Linked DNA regions of Homo sapiens. The protein of the gene in region 1 purifies or fractionates together with the protein of each later gene. This does not show direct contact. Each region holds a gene or a part of one and is shown in the gene's direction. Other genes may lie near its edges. The genes, in order: ABI1, CYFIP2, EPS8L1 and NHSL3.

Region 1 (6,886 bases):
ATTGGCATTTGATTTAGTATGTTTGTATTATGAACTTCTCCCCTGCAGGAATTATGTAATTCCTGTATCAATTTGTATGAAAACATTTTCATATGTCTTTTGAACTTTTAAAGAAATTTATTGATCAGAAATTTAAGTTAAGCATTAATTGGGTTCCAGCTTTGAATTCTTTAAATTTTAGGAGCATTTTTACCTGATATTATACTAGTTCATTGAACAGAGCTCTAGCCTGACATTTTCCCATTTCCCTGTTTACACCTTTGACTGTGTAAAGCACACACATATATACTGACCACGACCATCTAGAGTTTGAGGTATGAGTCATTTTTATTGTTTTGTTTACTGTAAGTTCCTTTTTGTTTGTTTTTTTTAATTACATCTTCAACACTTTATGTTTAAATCTTAATTGTTGATGTATTCTTAGAAAATCGAATCTTTAGGATCTAGGCTTTCCCTCATCCCGTGCTTATGTTTTACTAGCAATAATGCAAAATTTTAGCTTGCTTTCTACATTAAAAAACTAATTATGAATATAAACCTTTTTAAAAATACTCAATTAGATTTTCTACTGGTTGGGGATTCTTTTTCCATTTTTTCAACTTGTAAAATGTAAATAACAGAGTAGAAAATCTGCACACAGAAGCAGACCTAATACTACCAACTTTACTTTTCTCTTCATCAAAACAAACAATAATCAACAAAGAAACAAAAATCTGTCCACAGGAGACTGAATTTTTAGGGAACCAAAGCTGTTTCAAGCCAAAATCAGGGGCATGAATGAGCAGAGTGAAGAGTGATCAAACCATTAACGTAATGTTACTCATATCATTACTGCAGTCCAAATGACAAAAGTGACATAGATTTATTTTAGATTGTTAACATTTGTCCCGATCTGAACCTTGGAATAAGGAAACTACTCCTATAATCCTTATAAAAAGAGACATTGTCTCCTAACACCCTGCATTCATTAATTTGTAGTACTTCCAGATACCCTTATTTTTAGCTCATTTTGTTATTTTTAAATGATTCTTGAGTAGCATAAACTTTAACACACCAAGCTTTTATTTCTAATCATTGCATGTTTTATTATAGTGCATGCTGTACTTAAGTTAGAGCTTTCTTAAATTCTGTTAACTTATAAGTTTCCATCTAGACTTATTTTTGATTCAAATCAATCATATGAATCTTTTTAGTTGCTGATAGTCCAACTCCACCGCCACCACCTCCACCAGATGACATTCCCATGTTTGATGACTCTCCACCTCCCCCACCACCACCACCAGTGGATTATGAAGATGAGGAGGCTGCAGTAGTTCAGTATAATGATCCATATGCAGATGGGGATCCTGCTTGGGCCCCCAAGAATTATATTGAGAAAGGTAAGGTACAGTCATTGAGTTGATGTGAAGGAAAATAACCTAATTGTAGAAATTTAGAACTATAAAGAACATCTAATCCAATGTTTCTCAGCCTTTTAAACTGCCTTACCAACCAAGATGATTTACTTAAACCTTACTTCCTAAGTTTTGTATTATTCCCAGTGTACAGGGGGATTCTTTCTTTGTATTTTAAATAAAAGTTGCAGTGTTAGATTTGCTTTCAAACTACATATGCGTTCAGCTGAAGATTAACTTGCTGGACGGCATTTTATAGATGAAACAGCTAAGGCACAAAAATGGAGTTATATGTAATTAGTAAAGATTTTAAAAGTTCTGTCAAGCTCTATTGATTACCTTTCATATCTAAATATGGACGGTCCCTGATTTATGATGGTTCACTTTAGGATCTTTTCAACTTTATGATGGTACAAAAATGATATGCATTCAGTATGCTTCTCAACTTATGATGGAGCTTTGTCTGGATAAACCTGTTATAAGTAAAAAAAATACAAGTTGAAAATGTACTTTCAATTTACAATATTTTCCACTAAACAGTGGGTTTATTGGGACATAACCCCATTGTATGTAAGTGGAGGAGCATCGGTCTTTAAAAATATATTAGTACTATCATGAGAAAAGCCTCAATTAAGGTTTCAATTAGGTGATTTTATAAAACACAAGAGAAATTATCAGGATTGTATTTCATGAAATTATGAACTACTCTAAAGTCTAATTTACCTATAGTACCCGATATTCACTATAATTATCTATTAAGAAATATAGGTGGGGAAGAAACAAATCCTGTTTCTAGTTTTTATTTTTTCATCCAGTTCTGTGCTATTTTAAAATCTGTATTTCTTTTTGCAGAAGTGGGAATCAATTAAAAATAAAATCTGTATTTCTATAGAGTTCTGAAAAATGCTTGTGATTTAGTTGAACACTTTTGGTTGCCTTTGAAATATATTTCCTTCTATTGACTTTACTGGGTTAACGGACTTTAAGCTAGTAGATGTAGCTCTTGAGACCAGCAGCATTCTTTCCTGCCCAAGTTTTGGATATGTGGCAAAAGTAAATTTGTTTTCCTTTTATATTTTTTTATTTTTTGAGATGGAGTCTTGCTCTGTCTCCCAGGCTGGAGTGCAGTGGTGCAATCTCGGCTCACTGCAACTTCCGCCTCCCAGGTTCCAGCAATTCTCCTGCCTCAGCCTCTTAAGTAGCTGGGATTACAGGTGCCCGCCACCACGCCCAGCTAACTTTTGTATTTTTAGTAGAGATGGGGTTTTGCCATGTTGGCCAGGCTGGTCTTGAACTCCTGACCTCAAGTGATCCGCCCATCTCAGCCTCCCTGTGCTGGGATTACCGGCATGAGCCGAGCGTGGCCTTATATTTTTAAACAGTAAGTAATTTACATATTGTTAAGAAAGTCTTGAATATTCTACTTGAGATTCCCATATACCTTCAAATAGAGAGCTGTTGTTACTTACGAGGATGATAAACTTGAGTGACCTTGAATTGTGTTTTTACCCATATTTTCTTACTTGGTGAAGCCAATTAACTGTGAAAATGGGACCATATTTATATAAGTTGACAAATTTGGAATGATATATTGGGTAATATATTTGATAGTAGAGGAGGATTAAAAAGTATATTCCCAAGAACTAGGGGTGAGCACACTTTGTTTGGTATAAAGCCAGATAGTAAATATTTTAAACTTTGCTGGCTATACAGTCTCTGTCACAACTACTCAGTCCTGCTATTGTAGCGTAAAAGCAGACATAGACAATACATGAGTAAGTAGATGTGGCCATATTGCAATAAACCTTTATTTACAAAAATTGCGTGGTTTGGATTTGTCCATGGGCCATTTTATACATTTTGGATTACTTTCTCTTTCCATAGCAGTTTGCAAAGGAAGTGAATATAGGCTAAGCATCCCTATCTGAAAGTCCCAAATTCAAAATGCTCCAAAATCCAAAATGAGTTCCAACATGATGCCGCAAGTGGAAAATTCCACACCTGACCTCACGTGATGGGTCACAATCAAAATGCAGGCACATGACACAGTTTATTCAGTGTTCCCAAGGGAAAAATAAAATTACCTTCAGACTATGTGTATAAGGTGTATGTGAAACAAAAATGAGTTTTGTGTTTAGACTTGGGTCCCATCTCCAAGATGTCTCATTACGCATATGTAAAATTCCAAAATCTGAAAATCCCAAATCCAAAGCAGTTCTGATCCCAGGCATTTCAGATAAGGGTTACTCAACCTGTATCTTGAACTGAAAAAATTACAGACACCACAGAATTGCAAAGTTCTCTAAGTATTAATTAAAATCCTTTAAAGTAAGTAAATATTCTTTAAAAAAAAATCTGGGGACAGTCCCTTAAATTAGCATGGGTCCTTGAATGAGTAGGATGTGATTTACCTTCCAGTAACTGTGTTTTTTCAAATTAGATAGCTTGGATTGTTACCTGGTTTACTGAATGGCTATGCAGCTTTCTTTGCCTGATAATTATTTTGAAAAGCCGGTGCTTTGCATATGATAGGCACTTGGTATTTGAATGAATTGAAACATCTAATAAATTCTAAAATTCAGAGAGCTTTCTTAAAGTGATTGACAGAACCTATTGATGTATTCAGTCTAATCAGATTGTCATTTGGCTCTAAGATTAAGCCAATGATTTAAGTACATGGTTGGCCACTGACCTACTTATATTGATAGATACAAAAATTAAGAAATCTTCATAAAAATAGTTTTGCTGTGCTATATATTTAATTGTCTTTGTCTTAAAATTCAAGTAAATTTTGGATATAGTGCACTCATGTGATATTTCAACTGTTTTTTCCATAGTTGTTGCAATATATGATTATACAAAAGACAAGGATGATGAGCTGTCATTTATGGAGGGTGCAATCATTTATGTTATAAAGAAGAATGATGATGGCTGGTATGAAGGAGTCTGCAATCGAGTGACTGGTCTGTTCCCTGGGAACTATGTTGAATCAATCATGCACTATACTGATTAATTTTTTTTTTTCTTTTGAAGTAGATTCTTATTACTCAGTCATACTGTGGGACTATTATGGTTAACAGAACTGTCTTAATATGTTTTAAAATGTGCCCATATTTTCAGAACATGCTGTTTTATTGGTAAATTGAATGTCTACCTGTAAGCATAAATCTTTGAGGCAGTTTATGTATTGCTGAATAGCAATTTATACAAGAAGCTGTCCATAACTGATTATGCTTATGTACTTACTTACACATTTTTAACTTTATGACCAGCCTAAATATTCTGGGGGAAGTGGGGTATAATATTTAACGAATCATGATTCAGATTGTACCATTACATGTTTCAGTGCAGCATGGTTACTAACGCTATGTCAGACTAATATTAAAATCAGAAAATTTAAATGCTGGTGCTGGTCAGACTTTTTTTGTTAGATTCTCTCATTTAAAAAAAATACTGTTTGTTTAAAGCATGCATAAAAATTTATGTATTGAAATATACTTAAAAATTCAAGATGCTTCCCATTTGTGTAATATTTACCTGGAGGACTCGTACTTAGGTGTCTTAACGTGAATTGAGTCTCCAAGGTCTCCATGTGAAACAAGCAAAAAGAGAATTATCTGTAATGTTGTAATTTGTACCTAAGTTTTTTAATGAGTGAAATTTGCATTATAAACTTTTTCCATTCATAAATACATAAGTGAACCAAAGGTTTTTGTCCTTTCCTTCACTGATTTGCTTTAAAAAAAATAAAAGATAATGATTTATTGCAGAATTATGATTCTATTTTCTCAATATGTTAACTTGGAAAAAAATTTTAGCCTTATCTTAATCTGTCCCAACAGCAATGTGACGGATTTTTGCAGATTCAAAATCTGCAATGGTTATTTACAAGTCAATCTACTGAATTCCTTTTTTAAATAATCTTTTGAAACTAAGAAAATGTGTCAAATTGTGTGCATTCATTCTGTAGGTAAAATTCTTAAGGATTGCCATGTCAGTCCTTCAGTTGTACAGTGAACTGTTGTACACTGGTTCAATGAAAGGAAGTTAAAAGTACCTTTTACATATTGTAAAAGTGGATACAGTTGATTTGTGAGTAGGCACTCTTTAATCCATTACCTGGCACTAGCAACATTAGAATTTTAAAATAAAATAATTGGGAAAGAAGGTGGGTCATGTATTAATCAGTGAACAGAGATTTACCTAACCAACAGACTTGGATTGTCTTTTGACATAATCAAAATGCAACACATGCACTTTGTGTGTCTCCTCTTAATTGAAGGGAGGGCTGAGGGATGTTTTCTCTTCTTGTCTTGTGTATAATTCTCTATTGCTTAGGATATTAAAGTAGAGCACTCAAGTGTGGGTTTCTGTGTTATTGAGGATTTGTTTGGAATTCAAATTACAGTTATGTACTGGATGCTACAGACTTATAACAGCATAGTGAATGGTAAGACTAGTGCAAAACAGTTATTTCTGAAAATTAAAGACCATTATTGCTACCAAATCAATGTGACTATTTCATATGCATTTTGCCTTTGTTAATTTTAAACAAACAAAGTATCATTAGTGATCAGCTAGCTACCTTCTACTTTCCATTTTTCAAGTGGATTGTTCTCTTAATTTGTATATAACCTGTTGTCTAAATTTTATGTACAGTCTTTTATAATAAACCATTCTCCTATATGAAATTTTGGATACTGTTAAAATATAACTCATGTGGACTTCAATGCAGACTTCACATTTTTCTGACCTTTACTCCTACGGTAAATCAAGACAAACCATTTGAATTTTAACATTGGTTATTTATTTGTGTAATGGCCTTACATGTGGATATTAACAGTGTAAACAATACCACATATAACCATCAAGATACCTTGATTATAATTTATAGGACTAGAATGACAGATTCAGGTGGTTTATTAATTACATTTAAAAAGTTTTCTGAAAAAACTTTTGCAATAAAAAAAAATAAATTGCCCATCAATAAGTTTGATATCTTTTAAAATGATTTTTGGTTATCTGCACATGAAGCAAACAAAGTGTATTCCACAAAATTCTTTAGGCACAGTCTGGTAAGATAGCTGCCAGAAAGAACAGAAAGAGTTGTCATTTATCTCTTGTGAGTACAATTTCTGAAAGCTGAATGAGGGCATCTCTTTCTGGGGATGGTCGAAGTTTACTGATCTCTCTTATTGCTTCATGGCAGTACTGCTGGGCGAGGTAGGTTGTTTGTTGCACACCATCACTCTATAAGATACAGAACAAAACAGAACAGATGCCTGTCACTGACTGAATCAGCGTTTTAACTTCCTGCTATAATAAATGAACACATAGTTTTGAGATCAGATGAGCTGAGGATTACAGTTAACAGTCAAACTACATCTCTAATGTTCTTTTCCCGACTCATAGTGCTAACTTCCTTTAGGCCTTTTTCTCATATTGAAGCAAATTTTTATTCTATTAGCATGCAAAGCAACTAGCTCATCAAT
Region 2 (7,023 bases), on another chromosome or scaffold:
TCCAGAGCTTTCCTGAATTTTGCTTTTTTGAGGGAAGTTGGTCTCTGTGACCAGTAAACCCAGCCCCAAGTTTACCGGCCGAAGGAAGGGAAAGTTAAGAGTGATAGGGCATGAAGTGAAAGGCTTCAGGTGGGAAGTGCTCTTAAGTAGCACAAGAGAGGTGGGTGGAACCTGAGTAGGTAGGGAGAAGTGGGAGGGAACAAGCCAAGCAGAAGCCCAGGGCCATTCTCACATTTCAACACGTAGAGTTAAGGAAGGGCCTCTTCCTCTGTGAGAATTCAGCATTTTGCAACCATCCAAAAATGTTGAGGGCATGCTTTGCTTCCAGGGCAGACAGAGCAGCACAGTGAGCATGGGACACAGGATCCCTGACTTGCTGTGTGCCCTTAAACCAGCCACTACCTCTCTGACGTTCAAAATTGAGCAATGGAAGGCAGCCTGCCCAACTGTTACCTGCCTGTCATCATGAAAGCCTGCGGATGAGGTAATGTCTGTAAATCCCAGTCTGAGAAAAAAAAGCCGTGGAAATAGAGAAGGAGCCTCCTGAATGTGTGACTCTTTTGGGTAAATGCCCTCCATTCCTTAAGAAACAATTTATTAATTATATATTGTGTGTCACTTTAAGAAGATGGATCTGTGGCCTCTCTGTACTGTTGAGCCAATGGGAAGCTTAAAGGCACTTTGTGATTCACAGATTCTGTCAAGGCCCCTGGATGGCCTTGTCTGTACAAAGACACTTCAGAATTCAGTCAGTGGGTATGGGACGCCTCCCAGGATGCAAAGAGCTTAGATATTGGCTTTCTAGCCATGGGCATTATGCTAAGGGCTGTGTGTGATGTACCTCAAAAAATAGCCATTTAAGCCATACTTGGGCCCTGGCAACAGAGGGTGCAAATTCTTGAAAGAAATTGTTTTGAGAAGGCAGAGCTTGAGTTCAGGCAGAATTTCTTGCAGGGATCATTCTGGTTGCGTGGCATTTTGATAGACTTTGGGCAACTCAGATACAGGCAGTGAGAGAGGGAAGTAAATAGGACCTTCTTGCGAGATGCCTGAGAAAGACCCAGTGATGACTTCATCAGTAGACCTTTTGATTCTGTTTGCGTCATTATTTGGTCATTGTAGAGCAATGGTTCTTAGGCTTTAATCTCTAGGTAAAACAGAGGTGTGTTTAGTCTGTCCATGTTCTCTGTTTTCTAAGTAAGGCAGGAGGTGAGGTCCTCTGCAGGAAATAAAGGTGATGGACTGGTTAGGAAACTTCAGGAGACTTCAGGGTTTGGAACAGTTGCCTATGTGGGTGGAATAAGAAATAAACTGGGGAAGAATGAGAGAATTGTCTAACTTCACTGAAGGCCTGGCTGAGATCAAAGAGAATTTGCAGGGCTGACCCTCAGAGAAGACATGCAGTAACTCTTAAGGAATATCCGAGAACTATTTTTGATTTGTGCTTTTAAAATATGATGCTTTAAGATTTGTTTTGGCAAGATATGAATGGCAAGATAAGAATTCAGAACTAGAGGTCAGCCCCCTATCTCCAAGTCTGTTATACTTCCATATGGGAAAGAGAAATGAGGACCTGCTTCTTAGGGTTTGAAGTGGAAACTATACGACAGAAGGATTTTCTAAAGAACTCTCCTCAGATTCTTATATTGACAAGGCAGCCTTGGATATGGGACCTTAGAGAAGCATGATATTTTAACTTTCTTGTTAATTTTTTTAAACCAGAAGTTAAGAATTTTGGTCATTGGCTCATGCAGTCAACAAATCATTCATGAAGTATTAATTAAGCAAGTAATTCCTGGTGTGTGCCTATCTCTGTGCTGGTTGCTATGGGTCAAACTCAGATAAGATGACTATCCTTGGCATTCTTAGCAATCCAAAGAATTAGTGAAATATAAAGCAGTTTGTCGTGCAGTTAAAAACTGTGGACTCTAGACTGTGAGTGCTAAGGGAGTGAGAGAAATAAAGGTCATTAAGGGGCTTGGCTGGTCAGACCTTTGTGGAAAAGGCATGTCTTCGTGTGGGCCATGATAGATCGGTAAGATTTGAGAAGGGAAGAAGACAGTCCATAAGGGAGTGGAGACAGTTTGAGCAAAGGCACAAAGGAAGAGTATCCTTGGACAGGTTTATTATGCCCTGTATACCTTGGCCACAGAGAATGGTCTGCATGATCCTTAACACATGTCTTTAAGGAAGCCCTTTGGATGGAATGTCTCAACTGTAGTCATGGTCATTTGCTTTAGTGTTGGGAGGGTCCTGAGAGAGGCCCAAATCCAGTGATTCTTAACTGGTTGCTGTTGTGGTTTTTTTAGTACACAAAATGGACAATGTTGACATGCTGAACACATCAGCCCCCACAGCCAACCCCCCAACTCTGCTCCATTCCTGCCACTCAAGGGAAGAGATGAACATGCAAGCAATAATATCACACAGAGATCTTGAACCCTCGCCTCACATACAATAAAATGTACCTTGTTTGCAAACCTCAGTGCTTAAGCTATTATTAGCACAAGTTACCCGCAATAACCTTCACAAGGCAGGTTTGGACATCATGGTTGAGAGAGAACCAAGGCTAACCTCCACATTTTACAGACAGAGAAATTTGCCCTTTTAGAGTGAGTGAAAATGTGATTTGGGGGCCTTTGTCTTCATACTGAGCCATGTTCGAGTTGTGGTTTCACATCGATGGAGCTGAGTTCCACGTGCTCCGATCTGGTGGCCAGACCTGAAGCCCTCCTCTTTGTTTCCGTAGCAGATGCATGGCTTCCCTTGTGAGTTTTAGCAGGTGCATCTGAGAGGCAGCTCCTCTCCCCACATACGCGTCATGTTGGTGTTCCTCATATGACAGCCCCAGGGCCCCAGCAGGAGCAAATCAGCAAGCCACCTTGGTGGCATGACTTCCCCTCCTGAGAGCATGAGGCCGTTCCCCTGAGCTGCTGGTAGCCTGGTTTGGTGTCACCACAAAGGCCACCTCAACCTTAACAACACAGGAAGCAGCTGGGCAAAATGGCAAACGAAGGGGAAAGTCCTTTAGCCCCCACCAAGATCTTTTTCTCTGTCTACTCAGTCTACTCATAAACAACGAGGAGGATAGGCCTTCTCCAGTGGCCCAAGTCGAGGCTGACTTGATTTCTCGGCTCTGACTGCAGGTCCCCTGTGTGGAGAGAAGCTGTAGGTGATAGGGCCTCTGGTCCCGGAGGACAGGAGCAGGGGACTGAAACAACAAAGACCACCTTGCCAGTCAGTGCTGGGTACCGGCCAGGTGTCTGAACTGCTAACAAGGAGACTTTGGGTGGTTGTCTTCTAAAGCAAATTATTAAATTTTGATCAAAACGATATATACAAATGTTTTAAAAAATCAAATAGTATTGAAAGCCTTATAATGAAAAACAACCATCCAGCACCCACCCTCCCCTAGAGGCTGCCACTTTTAACTCACTGTTTCTTCTAGTAGCTGCCTCCAGATCTCTAAATGATATGCTTACACTGCTGTTTCTCGATTTATCTATTCTGCACGTTGTCTATTTACTTCCTGCTGTGATGGATGGAGATTTCACTTTCTTACACCATCTCCCTCCCTCCCCTGCCCCCGTCTCTCAAGATAGGAAGAGCTCTATTTTAACCTAAATCAGGTTTAAAGTGTCTACATTATTAATATATATAAATGATGATCACAGACAGCCAAGTAAAGTCCTTTGATTATATTTCCTTTCTTAGAGGGCTTTTCATTTCGCTGCAGAATTTTTGTTGCAATACTTGTCTTTTTATTTATCTATTTATTTATTTTGAGATGGAGTTTCACTCTTGTTCCCCAAGCTGGAGTGCAGTGGCGTGATCTCAGCTCACTGCAACCTCTGCCTCCCAGGTTCAAGCGATTCTCCTGCCTCAGCCTCCCGAGTAGCTGGGATTACAGGCGTGTGCTATGACACCTGGGTAATTTTTTAATTTTAGTGGAAATGGGGTTTCACCATGTTGGTCAGGCTGGTCTTGAACTCCTGATCTCAGGTGATCCACCTGCCTCGGCCTCCCAAAGTGCTGGGATTACAGGCACGAGCCACTGTGCCTGGCCCTGTCCTTTTCTTTTAAAGCTCTGTGTCATATGAGTTATTCTATTGCAGTCCCTTGTCTTCTCAGGAAGTGCAGTGTTAACCCTAGCTCCACCCCTAACTAGCCCAGTGACCTTGCACAAGTCCCTTCTCTTTTCTGAGCCTTGGTTTCCTCATCAGTAGAAAGAGAGCTAGGCTCCCTTCTTGTTCTCATTCTAAACCTCAGAACCTATCACCCCACCCACCTCACAGGCAGTAATATTATTACTCCTCAGTTAATATTATCTGAGAAGTCTTTACTCCAGGGTGGGGCAGCCCCAGGACCTGACAGATGGCAGAGAAACCAAAACAGGCAGGGGCAGGGGGAGGGAACAAACAAGCTAGCTGGGCCTGCCCTGTATGGTCTAGTTCACCCCTGCAGTTTAGGGGGCTGCTCTGTGGGGTGGTATGGTTGTATCTATTACTCTTTTCCTCCCCTGCTATCCCCGTTGGTTTTTGCTCTCCACAGCCTCTGCTTGTAGGGGCATCATTTACAGTCCCCAAACTCCCCAAGCTCCTACTCTACCCCCAGCTCTCTTTGTACCCCTTCTGCTTATGTTACACTCAAAGTTTCCCAAAAAGTAGTTATAAAAATACTAACTTTTGGTAGCAGCTTTATTGAAATATAGTTTGCATACTGTACAATTCACTCATTTAAAAAATATAGTTCAGGGCAGGCATGGTGGCTCATGTCTGTAACCCCAGCACTTTGGGAGGTCAAGGTGGGTGGATCACCTGAGGTCAGGAGTTTGAGACCAGCCTGGCCAACATGGCAAAACCCTGTCTCTACTGAAAATACAAAAATTAGCCAGGCATGGTGGCAGGTGCCTGTAATTCCAGCTACTCGGGAGGCTGAGGCAGGAGAATCGTTTGAACCCGGCAGAGGTTGCAGTGAGTGAGATCATGCCATTGCACTCCAGCCTGGGGAACAAGAGTGAAACTCTGTGTAAAAAAAAAAAAAAAAAAAACCGTTCAGTGGTTTTTAATATATTCACAGAGTTGTACAACCCATAATCGTAGTCAGTTTTAGAGCATTTTAGCACCCCAAAAAGAAATCTCATGGCCTTTAGCACCACCACCTATTTCCCCCAACCCCACCCCTTGGCAACCATAGATTTGCCTATTCTGGGCATGTTTAATAAATGGAACAATACAATACGGGGTCTTTAATGATTCGCTTCTTTCACTTAGCATAATATTGTCAAAGTTTATTCATGTTGTATCAATATCAGTACTTAATTACTTTTTATGGCTGAAAAATACTCCATGTGGCTATACAATTTTTTATTTATCAGTTGATGCATATGTTAGTTCTGCTTTTTAGCTATTACAAATAATGGTGCCATGAACATCCATGTACAAGTTTTTGTGTGGACCTGTATTTTCATTTCTCTTGGGTGTATGCCTAGGAGTAGAATTGCTGGGTCAAATGGTAACTGTGTGTTTAAAAATTTGAGGAAATACCAATCGATTTTCCAAAGTTGCGGCACCATCTTACATTCCCATTAGCAACGGTATTCTCAGTTTCTCCACATCCTTGCCAACACTTGTTATTGTCTGTCCTTTTCATTATAGCCATCCTAGTGGGTGTGAAGTGGTATCGATTTGCATTTCCCTAATAACTAAGGTTATTAATCTTTCTGTGTGCTTATTGGCTATGTGTATATCTTTGGAGAAAAATCTGTTCCTTGCCTATTTTTAAAATCAGGTTCTCTTTATTAATGAGTTTTAAGAATTCATTTTTTAAATTTATTTTTATTTAAAAAAATTTTTTTGTAGAAACAGGGTATCACTCTGTTGCCCAGGCTGGTCTTGAACTCCTGGCTTAAGCGATTCTCCCATCAACCTCCCAAAGTACTAGGATTACAGGCATGAGCCACTGTGCCCAGCCAAGAATTATTTACATATTTTATATACTTAGCAAATACATGATTTGCAAATATTTTCTTCTATTCTGTGGACTTACTTTCTTGATGGCGTCCTTTGAAGCACAATTTTTTTTATTTTGATGTTTAGTTTATTTTTTATTTTGTTGCTTGTGTTTTTGTTGTTATTACATAATTCAAGGTCACAAAGATGTACTCTTATGAGTTTTATAGTTTTAGCTCTTACATAGATCTTTGATCCATTTTGAGTTAATTTATTATATATTACATTATTTATACCTCACACCATAAAACAAATTTTGCATGTGGGTATCCAGTTGTCCTAGAATCATTTGTTGAAAAGAATATTCTTTCTACATCTCTTGTCAATTGACCATAAATGTGAGGATTTATTTCTGGATTCTCAGTTCAATTCCATTAATTTAATCATTGTTCATTGTCTTCATGGTAACACCACACAATTTTGATTACTGTAGTTTTGAGTATGTTTTGAAATCAGGAAGTGTGAGTCTTCCATTTTTGTTCAGTTCCTCCCACCCCCAAGATTGTCTTGATTATCCTGAGTGAGTCCCTTGAATTTCCATATGAATTTTAGGATCAGCTTGTCAATTTCTGCAAAGAAACCAGATGAGATTTTCATAGAGATTATGTTGAATCTGTAGGTTAGTTTGGGCAGTATTGCCGTGTTAACAATATTAAGCCTTCCAACCTATGGACATGGGATATCTTTTTATTTATTTAGGTCTTTAATATTTTCAACAAGGTTTTATTGCTTTCAGAGTGTATGTTTTGTACTTATTTTGTTAAGTTTATTTCTAAGTATTGTATTATTTTTGATGCTACTATAAATAGAACTGTTTTCTCCATTTTATTTTCATATTGTGCATTGCTGGTATATAGAGATACTACTGATTTTTATATGCTGATATTGTATCCTACAAACTTGCTGAACTTGTTTATGACTTTCAATAGTTTTTAGTGGATTTTTCTTGGATTTTCTATAACAAGACTATGTTATCTGCAAATAGGAATAGTTTTACTTTTTCCTTTCTAAT
Region 3 (7,023 bases), on another chromosome or scaffold:
GGTCAGAGGGAAGAGGGGCTGGGGGGCTGGACTCCTAGGTTTGAGGGAGGAGGGGCTGGGGGCCTGGACTCCTGGGTCTGATGGAGGAGGGGCTGGGCCTGGACTCCCAGGCTCATTCTCTTTCTCCCCTGGCAGAGCAGAGGAAGCGTTACTCCACAGTTGTTATGGCTGATGTATCCCAGTACCCAGTCAATGTGAGTCTGGGGTCTGTGTTCCCCCAGGACATCTTCTGGGGCAAAGGTGGCCTCAGGAGATAGGGCTTTTGAAAGCAGCTAGGCCCCCAAGCAGGAAGCATGTGGAAAGTCAGTTTGCCCATCCATAAAATGGACCTCCGTTGCCTCACCTCAGTCATGGATATGAAGCCAGGGGCCTCGGGTCCACTTAATCTGCCAGCCTTTCCTCCAGGCCAGCTGTTGTGCTGGACAGTGGGACCACGGAGGCAAATCAAGACACAGCCCTGCATGAGGAAGGGGTAGACAAGGTCCAGAGGAATCCACAGAGGCGCCTGGTGCTCTAATGGAGGTGGCAGGGGGCATGGCAGGAGACCCGAGGAGGCATTTAGAAGGAGAGAGCTATAATCCAGACTCCTTCCCTGCCCGCAAGGAGCCTCCAGTCTGTGAGAAGCCAGACTCAGGTGCTAGTCACTCTGATGAAAGGGAAACAAAGGGCACTGGGAGGAGGAGCTGATTTGTGGAACAGGTGATCAAGGAAGGCTTCCTGGAGGAGGTGTGGTTAGTCTCAGGCTGAAAGTCTGATTATTCTGGGGGATTCTGAGCCCACCTGGCATCATCTTGGGCCTCACTGCTTTCTCCATGGTCCGTACCAGCACCTGGTGACGTTCTGCCTGGGTGAGGACGATGGCGTGCATACCGTGGAGGATGCCTCCAGGAAGTTGGCCGTCATGGATAGCCAGGGCCGAGTCTGGGCACAGGAGATGCTGCTGCGAGTGTCTCCCGACCATGTCACGCTGCTCGACCCGGCCTCCAAGGTGCCGGGGGGCACGTGGGTGGGAGGAGTGTCTGGGGCAGGGACTTCAGGGGGTCTGGGTGTGAATCTTGGCTCCTGCACGTCCTTCCTCTGGGAACTCTGGCGAGGGACCCCAGCCCCCTTCTTGAGCCTTAATAGCCTCATCTATTAAACAGGGCTGTTATCCCTAACCCCCTAACCGCCTGAGGTTGCCCTGACCTGCTGGCCCACACTCCCGTCGCCATTTAGTAGTACCATCATTTCGGGGCCTCAGTTTACCCCGCCATCCCACCCGGCAGGAGGAGCTGGAGTCGTACCCACTGGGCGCCATCGTGCGCTGTGACGCGGTGATGCCACCCGGCAGGAGCCGCTCGTTGCTGCTGCTCGTGTGCCAGGAACCCGAGCGCGCGCAGCCCGACGTGCACTTCTTCCAGGGCCTGCGCCTCGGGGTGAGCAGATGGGCTGGCTCTGGGGGTGGAGCTGGAACTGGGCGGAGCCTGGAGCCGGGGCGGAAATGGGTGGGGCCTCTAGGTGGGGCGGGGCCTGGGGCTAAGGCGGGATCAGAGCAAGGAAGGGCAGGGGACCTGGGAAGGAAGTTCTGGAAGGCAGTGGGGTTTGAGATTGGACCCAGGGTCAAGATAGAACATGAAGGTGGGATGAGGACATGAACAGAACATGGCCAAGAAGGATCTGGGGGAGCAGCCAGGACGAGGTGGGGGCGAGGAACCACCCGGACTGGGTCTCCATGGGCGGGGTCGTGGCTTAGGGCAGGGACAGGTGTAGGGCGAGGGGTGAGTTCGGGGCGTGGACGTGCGTGGGTTCACAGGTGTGAACGGTAGCCGCACGTGGGCTGGGACTGAGCTGAAAAATCGGCCAGGGGCGAGGCCCGGGTAGGAAGTGGGTGCGGCGTGGGGAGGCGTGGCCTGACGGTGTGATTGGCAGGCGGAGCTGATCCGAGAGGACATCCAGGGGGCTCTGCACAATTACCGCTCGGGCCGCGGGGAGCGCAGGGCGGCGGCGCTCAGGTGAGAGGGAAGAAGTTGGCAGGGTCTCTGGGAAGCCGGTTTCCCCTCCTTGTGCCTCAGTCTACAACACCAGCCTGGAACAGAACAAGAGTTTTGCATGGAGTCAAGCACACCCTAGTCGAGTCTTGTCTGTACCTCCCAGACGAGCTGACCCCTTCTCCAGAACTCTGCTTCTTTTCTCTGTTCCCTGTCCAGGCCCTCAGTTTCACTCTAGAGAGGTGCTATCCCTCCGTATATCGGATTTCTCCCTACCTCGTTGAACTTGTTCACTCCCTTTGAGCCTTTTGAGCCTGTGTGTCTCGTTCTGCGCCCTGGATTTCCCCCTCCCTGGACCCCTCAGTGGACCCAGTCTTGGTGTCCCCGTCGCCCTCCGCAGGGCCACGCAGGAGGAGTTGCAGCGCGACCGCTCGCCCGCCGCTGAGACCCCGCCCCTGCAGCGCCGCCCGTCAGTCCGCGCAGTGATCAGCACCGTAGAGCGGGGCGCGGGCCGCGGACGACCCCAGGCGAAGCCCATTCCCGAGGCAGAGGAGGCGCAGAGGCCTGAGCCGGTGGGGACCTCGAGCAACGCTGACTCGGCCTCCCCGGACCTGGGTCCCCGGGGTCCTGACCTGGCGGTTCTGCAGGCGGAGCGGGAAGTGGTGAGCCGCTAAGGAAGGGGTCTGGGGGCAGGGCCAGGCGACTGGAGGCGGGGCTAGGGCGTGGAAGGGCGGGGCCGGCTGCGGGACGGGCGTTCTCTGGTCAGACTTCTGCGTTATGGAAGAGGGGCTGGGTCGGGGGCGGGGCTTGGTTGTGGGGCGTGGCCAGGTGTTTGGGGCGTGGCCTGATCTGGGGAAGTGTATAGGTGCTCAGGTTCAGGGCTTCGACGGGGATGGTTTTGGAACTCGGGAGCCCTGAGCGTCCCCCTCCTCTGTCCCCTAGGACATCCTGAACCACGTGTTCGACGACGTAGAGAGCTTTGTATCGAGGCTGCAGAAGTCGGCGGAGGCGGCCAGGGTGCTGGAGCACCGGGAACGCGGCCGCAGGAGCCGGCGCCGGGCGGCTGGGGGTAAGGGGCACCCTGGCGTGGGATCTGAACCCCCTCCCGATCTCTTCCAAATGTCCCCGCTCTCCCCAGGCTCTCCCCTCCCGCCACTTGCCAGGGCTGACCTCACCGCCATCTTAACCGGGTGTCCACCTCTCTCTGCCTGCCTGGTGCTGGCCCCGCGTCCCCATCGCCGCGCCCGTCTGCTCCCCTCAGAGGGCTTGCTGACGCTGCGGGCCAAGCCGCCCTCGGAGGCCGAGTACACCGACGTGCTGCAGAAGATCAAGTACGCCTTCAGCCTGCTGGTGAGGACGCGCCCGCCCCTGGGCCGGGGCGCGGGCACGACGAACCTGTCCCGTCCCCGCACCCACGCCAACCACCTCCCTCCCCACGCCCCAGGCCCGGCTGCGCGGCAACATCGCCGACCCCTCCTCTCCGGAGCTGTTGCACTTCCTTTTCGGGCCTCTGCAGATGGTGAGACCCGCCCCAGGCCCTCGGGCCCCCCTGCAGCGGGAGGAATCGGGTTCGACTTGTAGAAGGTGTGGCGGCACAGCCTGCCCCTCCTGCTCCCCTGACAGATTGTGAACACGTCGGGGGGGCCGGAGTTCGCGAGCAGTGTGCGGCGGCCGCATCTGACATCGGATGCCGTGGCGCTGCTGCGGGACAACGTCACTCCACGTGAAAACGAGCTCTGGACCTCGCTGGGGGACTCGTGGACCCGCCCCGGGTGAGGGGCGGGGCTGGGAGGCAGGGGGCATGGTGATTGGAGGAGCATAAGGCGCTGGGAGGTGGGTGGCATGATGATTGGAAAATAGGACTAGGAGAGTAGGGAGGGGTTAGAGGCGTGGCTTAGTTGTGTTGGGGCGGGGCTTAGGACAGATGCCAAGATTCAATTGGAGGAAAGGCCAGGAATTAACGTGAAGGAAAGATTTAAGACCACCAGACCAATCGGATTGAAAGAAAAGGGGGGCTTAAAGGAATAGAGGGGCTAGGGGCTACGGGGCAGGGGCGGGGCTACGCGAAGGGGCGGGGCTTCTGGAAGGTTTGGTCTATAACTTTGGTGATGGGACAGAGTCTGTGCACTGCGGGCTGGCAGTTCCGCAGGGAAAGGGTCAGAACCTGAAACCGACCTTACGGAAAACCTGATTTGGAATCAGGTGAGATTTAGAGGCTGGATAAGGCAATTTTTTTCCAGAGAGAGAGATGGATGGGGTCTCAATATTTTGCCCAGGCTGGTCTGGAACTCCTGGCCTCAAGCGATCCTCCCATCTTGGCCTCCCAAAATGCTGGGATTACAGGCGTGAGCCACCGTGCCCGGTCTAGAAATATAAATTGCTGTTGAGTTGGGCTTAGAGCTACCGGCAGGACTTGGTGAAAAGTGGCGGGGCTAGAATCGTTGGAATACAGCGAGCTTTAGGGGAAAACTTAGTGAAGTTAATGCAGGAACGAAGTTGGGGGCTGTATCAGGATCCCTGAGCTCTTGGCCCTGTCCCTGGCCGCAGGCTGGAGCTGTCCCCGGAGGAGGGACCCCCATACAGACCCGAGTTCTTCAGCGGCTGGGAGCCGCCGGTCACTGACCCGCAGAGCCGCGCCTGGGAGGACCCAGTTGAGAAACAGCTACAGCACGAGCGGAGGCGCCGGCAGGTGACCCAAGCGACACAGCAGGGCCGAGGCTGGGAAGTCCGGGGGCGCGGCCGGTCCGCCTGGCCCCGCCTGACCCGACTGTCTTACTTCCTACAGCAAAGCGCCCCCCAGGTCGCTGTCAATGGGTGAGTGTCCGCCCCAGGGCAGGGCAAGGGGGTCAAGGAGGGGTGCGTCCCGGGGGCTCCCGATGCTGACTCCGCCCCCTTTTTTTCTGTGTTTTTCCTTCTGTCTTCCTGGCTCTTCTCAGGTGGGTGAGATGGTGATGGGGCGGGCCGGGGCTGGGAGAGAGGGAGGAGCAGGGTGGGAGGGGGCGGGACCCAGACTTCTGGGGCTAAGGGAGTTGGGAATGGAGACCCGGATTCCTGGGCCTAAGGGAGGAAGGGGGCTGGGAGTGGGTAAAGTCTGAGAGGTTGGATCCCTGGATCCCCAAAAGGCTGGAAGAAGCCAGTTTGTTTTCCCAGGGCCTGGGAAGCACCATGCCTGGGCTCCCTAGGAGGACAGAGCCCTGGATATTGGAGGGGAGAGGCTGGGGAATTGGACCTTTGGGTTTTGAAGAAGAGCCCAAGTCTGGTGCTTGGGATCCTGGAGACCCAGAGGAGCAGGCTTGGGACTTCAAGGGCTTGGGGGCAAGTTTCTGGGAAAGTTAGGAAGTGGTAGTATCTCTGGGCCCCCGAGAGGGGTAAAGGCTGGACGATTAAACTCTTGGTTTTCCAGAGGCTCTAATGCAATTGTCTAAGTCGCTGCTGGGTGTCGGACTGGGTTAAAAGGTTTGAGGGTTAAAAGGATAAGATTGAAGCTTGAGACCTGGACTCCTAGGTCCCTGGGGGAGGAAAGAACATTCCAAGTCATGGTTCTACCAAGCAGTGGGGGCTCAGACTCTGGGTCCTGGGGGAGGGAAGGAGGTAGATGGACTAGAACTCTAGGGTCCTTGAGCAAATAGAGGGCAGACTGGAGGGAAGCAACGTGGGAGGAGACGAAAACAAAGCAGTGAGGCTGGAGGAGACAAAGGGGGGTCTGGGTGAGGGCCCGAGCAGAGGGTCTCAGCAGGGACAGCGTGCTGGGAGCTGCCGGCCCCACACAGGGGGTGCCGCGGCCCTGAAGACCCCCCCTCTCCCCTGCACAGGTAGGCCTGATCCAGGCTGAGGTCCCTCTTATTGGGGGTCAGAGCTGAAATCCCACCCCTGCCCCCAGCTGCCTGATATCGCAACCCTGGTCCCTGTTCACAGCTTCAAGTCACTTTCTCCGAGCCTCAAGTTCTTTTTTGCAGGGAAACTGGGAATAATGATTATCCGTTCCCGGAACAGTGAGAAGTCTGTGGTGTTGTAGGAACTAGCAGTTAAGGGCTTAAGGCTGTGACCAGGTTCAAGTTCAAGTCCAGCTGCCTGCAAACTAAGGCAGCATTATTCAGACCTGGGCTACCCTGGTCCCGGGCTGGCGATGCCACTCTCTTACTCTGTGACCTTTACATCCCTGTGCCTCAGCTTCCTCCTCTGTGAAAATGGAGGAGATCATAGGGTCTCTGGGGGAGGAAGAAACTGGGGGAGAGAGGGGAGTCCAAATTCATGGTTCTACCAACCGTTGTCATAAAGATCAAATTAACTAATATACGTAACAGAACAGTGCCCAGCACACAGTAAGTGGTACAGAAGTGGTAGCTATTGTTTTTTGAGACAGTCTCACTCTGTCATCAGGCTGGAGTGCAGTGGTGAGATCTCAGCTCACTGCAACTTCTGCCTGCCAGGTTCAAGCAATTCTCCTGCCTCAGCCTCCAGAATAGCTGGGACTACAGGCGCGTGCCACCACGCCCAGCTAATTTGGGTATTTTTTAGTAGAGACAGGGTTTCACCATGTTGGCCAGGATGGTCTTGATCTCTTGACCTCATGATCTGCCCGCCTCAGCCTCCCAAAGCGCTGGGATTACAGGCGTGAGCCACCGCGCCCGGCCTAGCTAGTGTTTTTATTATGCTTATGAGTTATGATATATAAAGCCCAGTGCCTATTAGATGCTCAATAAATGACAGCTGTTTCTAGCTGTGTGATGTGGGCAAGTCATTTTCTCGCTCTGAGCCTCATTCTCCTCTGTAAAATGGAATCGATGGTGGGATAGTACCCACTACATATGCCTACAGCACAATGCCAAGCAACGGAGGGAGCAAATATATTCAGTCTGTTATTCTTGTTTCAAATTTCTATTAACAGTATTAACCCGGCCCCTGCTGTGCCCCCAGCTTGGCTCTAACCCCAGCTCACACCAGCACCCTGCAGCCCAGAGCAATGGGGCTGGCTGCCTCCTTATCTCCAACCCTCCCGCTTCTCCTCAGTCACCGAGACTTGGAGCCAGAATCTGAGCCTCAGCTGGAGTCAGAG
Region 4 (7,574 bases), on another chromosome or scaffold:
AAGCTGGCTCCTGTGGAAGGCAGGTCTCCCAAGTGGAAAGGGGGATTGGTGTGTGTGAGGGCAACATCAGGGTGGTCCTGGGCTTTCCCCAAACAGAGGGGCAAAGTTGGAGGGCCCTTAGGATGCTGCCCCAAGCCTGGTTTTTGCTGGTTCCTCCCTGGGGACAGGCTGGAAGTTTCCTTCCTGGTCAGGTGACAGCCTGGCTCCAGGTTGAACTTTGGGCCCTATCCACAGGGACTGCTGGGAAGTCAGCTCCCTCCGCTGCCTGCAAGGCCAGCAAAGACATGTAGCTGAGCTGAGCAATCATTATTCCAGGGAGCCGGATCCAGCTACAGCTGAGACACAGGCTAGCTCTTCCTAGGCTAGCCCTCCCTGGGTGGCTCAGAAGCATGTCTGTCCTTTAGGCCAGGGGGCAAGAGGGAGAGCTGGGCCTGCTGGTCTGAAGGTGGTCCGGGCTGGGGATGAGAAGTGAGAGTCTCTGGGTGCTGGAGTCAGGAGCAGTGAAGGGAATATAACCCTGAACTCTCCTCATTTCCCTTCTTCCTCTCCCTACCTGCAAATCAGAGGATCCAATCTGTGGGTTGATTCCTGGAAATTCTAGTTTGAGGGGAATTTCCCTGAGGAATTATATGAGACACTGGCAGGGCTATCTTCAGAGGCATGCAAACTGTGTAGTTATGCATAGCCCATGCTCAGAAAGGCTCTGTGCTTGGTTGAATGTTTTGCTGTTGCCTCTTTTTTTTTGAGACAGAATCTTGCTCTGTCGCCCAGGCTGGAGTGCAGTGGCACAGTCTCGGCTCACTGCAACCTCCACCTCCCGGGTTCAAGCAATTCTCTGCCTCAGCCTCCCAGGTAGATGGGATTACAGGCACCCGCCACTATGCCCGGCTAATTTTTGTATTTTTTTTTTTTTTTGGGATGGAGTTTCGCTCTTGTTGCCCAGGCTGGAGGGCAATGGCACGATCTAGGCTCACTGCAACCTCTACCTCCCAGGTTCAAGCGATTCTCCTGCTCAGCCTCCAGAGTAGCTGGGACTACAGGCATGCGCCACTATGTCTGGCTAATTTTTGTATTTTTAGTAGAGACAGGGTTTCTCCATGTTGGTCAGGCTGGTCTCGAGCTCCCGACCTCAGGTGATCCGCCTGCCTCAGCCTCCCAAAGTGCGGGGATTACAGGTGTGAGCCACTGCACCTGGCCTAATTTTTGTATTTTTAGTTGAGACGGGGTTTTACCATGTTGGCCAGGGTGGTCTCGATCTCCTGACCTCATGATCCGCCCTCTTTGGCCTCCCAAAGTACTGGAATTACAGACGTGAGCCACCGTGCCCGGCATTTTTATTTTTGAGACGGAGTTTTGTTCTTATTTTCCAGCCTGGAGTGCAGTGGCACCATCTCGGCTCACTATAACCTCTGCCTTCTGGGTTCAAGCGTTTCTCCTGCCTCAGCCTCCCGAGCAGCTGGGACCACAGACAAGCACCACCATGCCTTGCTAGTTTTTTTGTATTTTTATTTATTTTATTGAGACGGAGTTTTACTCGTCGCCCAGGCTGGAGTGCAATGGCATGATCTCGGCTCACTGCAACCTCCACCTCCCGGGTTCAAGTGATTCTCCTGCCGCAGCTTCCTGAGTAGCTGGGATTATAGGCGCCTGCCAGCAAGCCTGGCTAATTTTTTTTTTTTTTTTTTTTGAGATGGAGTCTCACACTGTCACCGGGGCTGGAGTGCAATGGCGTGATCTTGGCTCACTGCAAACTCCGCCTCCTGGGTTCAAGTGATTCTCCTGCCTCAGCCTCTCGAGTATCTGGGATTACAGGCGCTTGCCACCTTGCCTGGCTAATTTTTGTATTTTTAGTAGAGACGGGGTTTCACTATGTTGGCCAGGCTGGTCTCAAACTCCTGACCTTGTGATCCACCTGCCTCGGCTTCCCAAAGTGCCAGGACTACAGGCGTGAGTCACCTTGCCCGGCCTGCTATTGCCTCTTGAAATTCTTTTTTTAAAAGACAAAGTCAGGCCAGGCACAGTGGCTCACGCCTGTAATCCCAGCACTTTGGGAGGCCGAGGCGCGTGGGTCACCTGAGGTCAGGAGTTCGAGACCAGCCTGACCAATATGGCGAAACCCCGTCTCTACTAAAAATACAAAAATTAGCCAGGCGTGGTGGCGGGCGCCTGTAGTCCCAGCTACTCAGGAGGCTGAGGCAGGAGAATCGCTTGAACCCGGGAGGTGGAGGTTACAGTGAACCGAGATTGTGCCACTGCACTCCAGCCTGGGCGACAGAGCAAGACTCAGTCTCAAACAAACAAACAAACAAACAACAACAACAACAAAAAGACAAGATTTCACTCTGTTTCGCAGGCTGCAGTTCAGTGGCGCGAACATGGCTCACTATAGCCTTGACCTCCTGGGCTCAAGGGATCCTCCCACCTCAGCCTCCCGAGTGAGTAGCTAGGACCACAGGCACTTGTCACCACACCTGGCTAATGAAAAACAATTTTTTTTTTGGAGAGATGAGCTCTTACCATGTTGCCCAAGGCTGGTCTCGAACTCCTAGGCTCAAGCAATCCTCCCACCTTGGCCTTCCAAAGTGTTGGGATTACAGACATGAGCCACTGTGGCAGGCCTTGAAATTCTTAATAAGTTTTTTTTTTTTTTTTTTTTTTTTTTTTTTGAGACAGAGTCTCGCTCTGTCACCCAGGCTGGAGTGCAATGGTGCAATTTTGGCTCACTGCAACCTCCGCCTACCGGGTTCAAGCAATTCGCCTGCCTTAGTCTCCCAAGTAGCTGGGACTACAGGCATGCACCACCACACCCAGCTAAGTTTTTGTATTTAGTAGAGACCGGGTTTCACCATGTTGGTCTGGCTGGTCTTAAACTCCTGACCTCAGGTGATCCATTTGCCTGGGCCTCCCAAAGTGCTGGGAATACAGGCCTGAGCCACCATGCCTGGCACCTGTAACACTTTTCTCTTGAAAACTGCATTCTCTACATTCCCTTTCCTCACCAACTAACAGAGGAAGAGGCTGGGTTCTTAGGAGTGCTAGGCTGGGCCAAGAGCACCCAGAGTACAGGGCTGGTTCCTGATCCAGAATGGGTGCTCTGGGATTGTGGGCTGGATCTGAATGAATGGTGGTTAGACAAGAAACTGAGGCCCAGCATGGACACTGGGTGGTCTGCCCCAGGGCCCCCAGGTGGGAGAGTGTCAATGATGTCCCAGGTTCACCACAGCTGAGCCCCTGGGGACATGCAGGGGGCTAAGGCAGGTTAGGGAGATCCCACTGCACTCTAGTAATCCTGCAATGTTATGGTGAGTGCTATCTACAGTGCGCCGGGGCTGACTGGGCTGGGTGGCCCAGACAAATGGGCCCCTGCCCTCGTGGAGACCAGGACCAAGAGAAAGCCGTGTGACCAGAGTCAGATTGGGTGATTCTGGCCACCCCACTGGTATGGACATCACAAGGCCCTTCTGGGGACTGACGGAGGAGGTTCAAGGGTGCTGAACCCACAGCTGGTCCCCAGCGCAATTTCTAGTCCTTAGGGTTTGAAGCCTTGGACCAGCCTGAGACAAAACCCAGATGACCATCTTGGCTCCTCTCCCGCTGACCACCTCTGTCCCCTTCTGGCCTCCATTTCCGTTGTCGTGGGATCAGATGATATAAAAGGGCTTGGTCAGCTGTAATAGACCCAGAGGCCTGTAGGCAATGAGTACAGCAATTTCAGGATTCTTAATGTTTCCTTTCCTACCAGCCTCCCAGTCACACCTCTCACCTGCCCAGAGTTCAACCCTAATTAGTGTTGAGCATCTCAGTGGGAACTCCTGGTCCAGGCAGGAGTGCCCTGGGGCCTCAAATCCTAGTCCAAGGGTAAACGGAGGAAGGGCTATCCTCATCTTGCCACCAAAGGGTGAGGCAGGAACACAGTGGACCTGGGCCCCCGCTGCACACCGAAGATGGTTGGAGCCTGGAAGGTGTGGTAAAGAGCGAGGAGGCGACCCCAGTCAGCAGATGGGAGGGAAATGCCCACTGCGGGTCACAGGTCTTGGACGTGTCTGAAGCCTCTATTCCTGGCGCAAGCGCCCCAACACTGTCGGGGCTTGGAAGGAATTCTCCAAATTCCCTTATTCCAGGAAAAAATATTCCAGAATCCCCTGTCTATTCCCAGCCCAAACTTGGGATACCAAGTCTCCTGGGGTCCAACCCCAGCCTCTCGCTCCTCCTTTCCTGCGCCCTTCCCCTTTCCGTCCCCACCCCATACCACCCTCTTCCGAACAGATCTCCCGCGGTGCCCCCTGCGGGACGGAACCTCAGTGCCGCCCCCTCCCGGGCGGCCCCACGACCCGCCCTCTCGGGCCCCAGCGGGGGGCACGACCCCGGGCTCCCGGGACCCCCTCCTCTCGGGACTGGACCTCGCCCTCCGCCGGGACCGGGGGAGGCGGGGAGGGGCCGCAGGCAGCGGCGCTCCCGCCCTGCGGCCGCTCCCGCCCCGCTCCTTCCCTCCCCGCCGGCCTGCGCCCCGCCCGCCGCTCGGCCGGCCCCTCCCGCGCCGCTCCCGCCGTCCGCTCTCCGCGCCCGCTCGGCCTCCGCCGCCCAAACTTTTCTCCGGGCGCGCGTCCCCGGCGGCCGCCCCCGGCATGGGCACCGCGCCGCAGGGGGCCTGACCCGCCGCCCGCTCCGCCCCCGCCTGCCATGGCGGCCCGCGCGCCCCCCGCCGCACCTGCGGCCGAGGAGCCGGGGAACCCGGGCGGCCCCCCGCGCAGGAAGAAGTCCCGCTCCGGCGCGTCCGGCCTCCGCCGCGCCTTCAGCTGGCTGCGGGGCAAGCGGCGCAAGAAGAAGGCGGCGGGGGCCGAGGGCGCCGAACCGGCCGCCCCCCGGGCCAAGAAGGCGGAGGACAAGGCCAAGAGGGCCAAGGGCAAAGGCCGAGGTAAGGCGGTCGGCACCTGGGCTGAGCGCGGGGGGGCGTCGAGGGTGCGGCCGAGGGGGCTCTGCCGGGGGTCCGCGCGCGGCGTGTTGGAGGGGGGTGACCCCCAGGAGCTGGTGCTGGAAAGCGAAGAGGCCAGGGCTGAGTCCGAACACTTCCACCCTGCGCTGCCTTCCGCAGTTTCCAGACCCAGTCCTGCCCCGCTGTGAGGGGAGGGGACCCCCGGCTGGGGCAGGGATCCCCTGGCAGAGCAGGAAGTGCTGGTAGCCCGACTCCAGGGCGGTGAGGCGATTCCCCCTCCCCCAGGCTCACCGAGGTTCTGCCCTCTGCTGAGTCAGGGGGTCAGAGACTTAACGCTGGCCTGTGGCCAATGGGAGAGACAGGTGGCCTTGGGTCTCTGGTGGGGACCCTCTGGGTCTGGAAGGTCAACCGCACTCACAAAGAGTTTCAGCTCCAGCTGGATCTGGATTTCCAGCCCCACAAAGGACCTCACATGGAGCACAGTGTGCCCTGCCTTAGCTTCTTAACAGTGCTGGCTTTTCCCACCTGGCCTCCCTCAACGCTCACCTGGGCCAGGCCACAAACATCACCTCCTGGGGTAGTGAGCTCACCAAGGTGAACCAACCCGCCCCTCCCTATCACTCCTTCTTCCAGCCCTGGAGAAACATGCCAGTGTCGGAAGTGTGCTTACAGATGGGGGAAACTGAGGCCCAAGCTCAGTGGAGAGGCTGTACCTGGGCTGGGGTGGGTACTTAAAATTCAACAGCTAATTCTCAGTCTTTCTGAATTTGAGTCCCTGGGCTCCTCCTCTGGCCTGGACGGGCAGCCTGAAAGGCGGGGAAGCCGACCTGGCCCATCCCTGCTGGGGTCATTTTCAGTTCCTTTCTTGGGCCTTCCCTCATTTTCCAGTTTCTGTCTTCCTTTTGATGGGGAGGGCTTGAGTCTTTGCAAGAGGGTGGAGCTCCCTTGGGGCTTGCTGTCCTGGGAAGTCCACCTTTCCTAGACTGCTGCTGCAGTGCTGGAGGTGAGGAAATGGCTGGGTGTGCGGGCCCATCCCATTCTGCCTGTGTTTACCCTCCCAGTGTCCTTTAACCACCTCTTCTGGGAGAGTTAGAAGGAACACTTTAGGGGTCAGGAAGAGGGTGGAAAGCCTCATGTGTGATTGTATCCGGCTTGATCTTCCTTTTGGATAAGGGCCCTGCTTCCCTGCGGCACAGCCACACATAGAAGTGAGGGTGCTGGGGCTGGGGTGACTGGGCCAAACCCTGAGGGAGGACTGGATTTGGGTGAGGGGTGTTTCCAAAGCCTCTGCAGTCCTAACAGGACATGGAGTCTGTCCCAGGGCTGCCCCACTGGGATTCAGTCTGAAGTCATCCCCGTCTCATTCAAGAGGGCATTGCAGCAGGATGTATTGTGGTCAGACTGTCAGGATTGGCAGGCAGAAGGCTAGTGGACTAGCAGTGTATACTCCAGGGCAATGGACCTTTTTCCTCTGGGAGACCAGCCTGGAAGGCAGGGGGCTGGAAAAGCTGAGCCTGTAGGTCACTGCTCCAACAGCCTGGGTTTGGGTTCATTGGGTCAGTGGCCAGGCCTCCCTCTTGCCTTGTGTTTGGTATCAGGTGGCTCTGGGCTTTCTGGGCAGCATGTCGGCCTGATTTGAGCCCACGTGCATGGGTAACACCTCCTTGCCCCTGGCTGTTGTTTCTCCAGGTCTGGAGGTGGCCCTGGGTATGACTGGAGGAAGTCCTGTTCCCTTTTACTCCAGCCTCCTATTATTGCAACTGTTTCCTTGTCACCTGCCTGGCCCAACTTCTTTTCTGTTTATTAAGAGAAATAAATCTGATCCCACTAATCTCCACTGGCAACGCTGGCCAGGAACGGGAAGCCTGCAGAAGGCTTAACTCTTTCAGGGAGAATGTTCAGAATGGAGATTGGGAGAGGTGGGGAGGAGGGATACACAGGAGATTCCTGGGAGGTCAGGGATCTTTGCTGGGGAAGTCATTATCTCCTCCATTCCAATCTCTGGCTCAAAGACCTATGAGAGGCAGGTCTTGATTCCTCTAATCTGACTCTCCTACTTTAAGATGGAAAAACTGAGCTTGTCATGGAGTTTTGAGCACCAGTCTTCCATGATTCCCTTGCTGACCTCACTACCCTGCACAAACTTAGAAGAAGAGAGGAAGTCTGACATTTATTGATTAGTCTGAATATGTCAAGATCTTACTTGCAGATGAAAAAATTGAGGCTCAGGGACAGTGAGTGACTGATTTGACCAAACGGATTTAAACTCAAATCACCTGCCTCAAAAATCGGGACTGTTTTCATGACTCTCCCAAGGACATAGAGCAGCAGGTAAGGCTTGAAGATCTTCTTGTTCAACTCACTTTACAGATGGGAAATGGCCCAGAGAGAGAAGTGAGGGAACTTGATAGAGTGGGGAGAGTATCAGAATCAGGCCAATGAGAGTTTAAATCCTGGCCCAGCTACTAGCAAGCCCCATGATGTAGGATGAGCAACTTCTCAGTGGGCTCCCTGATTCCACCACTGTCTTGTGGGGAAGAAAGGGGGAATCCTCTGGCTGGACATTGCCTTGATGGGCTGTGACCTTTCTGTCTCACCAAGATTCTCACAAGAGAGCATATGAAAATTATATTAAAGGCTG

Evidence for each region.
Region 2: the proteins of ABI1 (region 1) and CYFIP2 purify together in Homo sapiens (co-immunoprecipitation; 4 studies listed by BioGRID and IntAct, with this or other methods). This does not show direct contact.
Region 3: the proteins of ABI1 (region 1) and EPS8L1 purify together in Homo sapiens (co-immunoprecipitation; 4 studies listed by BioGRID and IntAct, with this or other methods). This does not show direct contact.
Region 4: the proteins of ABI1 (region 1) and NHSL3 purify together in Homo sapiens (affinity purification with mass spectrometry; 3 studies listed by BioGRID and IntAct, with this or other methods). This does not show direct contact.

The regions. Positions count from the first base shown.
Region 1 is NC_000010.11:26,746,091-26,752,976, reverse strand, and holds the end of ABI1 (abl interactor 1), read left to right. Parts: intron 1-1,193; coding exon 1,194-1,379; intron 1,380-4,231; coding exon 4,232-4,407; 3' UTR 4,408-6,381; downstream 6,382-6,886. Other genes in the region: all trans-polyprenyl-diphosphate synthase PDSS1, read right to left, coding at 6,504-6,644. UniProt on the Homo sapiens protein: May act in negative regulation of cell growth and transformation by interacting with nonreceptor tyrosine kinases ABL1 and/or ABL2. May play a role in regulation of EGF-induced Erk pathway activation. Involved in cytoskeletal reorganization and EGFR signaling.
Region 2 is NC_000005.10:157,269,100-157,276,122, forward strand, and holds part of CYFIP2 (cytoplasmic FMR1-interacting protein 2), read left to right. Parts: intron 1-224; exon of another isoform or gene 225-484; intron 485-7,023. UniProt on the Homo sapiens protein: Involved in T-cell adhesion and p53/TP53-dependent induction of apoptosis. Does not bind RNA. As component of the WAVE1 complex, required for BDNF-NTRK2 endocytic trafficking and signaling from early endosomes.
Region 3 is NC_000019.10:55,078,864-55,085,886, forward strand, and holds part of EPS8L1 (epidermal growth factor receptor kinase substrate 8-like protein 1), read left to right. Parts: intron 1-135; coding exon 136-194; intron 195-826; coding exon 827-988; intron 989-1,265; coding exon 1,266-1,415; intron 1,416-1,517; exon of another isoform or gene 1,518-1,630; coding exon of another isoform or gene 1,631-1,678; intron 1,679-1,908; coding exon 1,909-1,991; intron 1,992-2,367; coding exon 2,368-2,629; intron 2,630-2,909; coding exon 2,910-3,036; intron 3,037-3,228; coding exon 3,229-3,317; intron 3,318-3,411; coding exon 3,412-3,486; intron 3,487-3,590; coding exon 3,591-3,739; intron 3,740-4,514; coding exon 4,515-4,656; coding exon of another isoform or gene 4,657-4,752; coding exon 4,753-4,781; intron 4,782-4,903; coding exon of another isoform or gene 4,904-4,919; exon of another isoform or gene 4,920-5,379; intron 5,380-6,855; coding exon of another isoform or gene 6,856-6,895; exon of another isoform or gene 6,896-6,977; coding exon 6,978-7,023. UniProt on the Homo sapiens protein: Stimulates guanine exchange activity of SOS1. May play a role in membrane ruffling and remodeling of the actin cytoskeleton.
Region 4 is NC_000001.11:32,737,275-32,744,848, forward strand, and holds the start of NHSL3 (NHS-like protein 3), read left to right. Parts: upstream 1-4,555; 5' UTR 4,556-4,680; coding exon 4,681-4,915; intron 4,916-7,574. UniProt on the Homo sapiens protein: Able to directly activate the TNF-NFkappaB signaling pathway.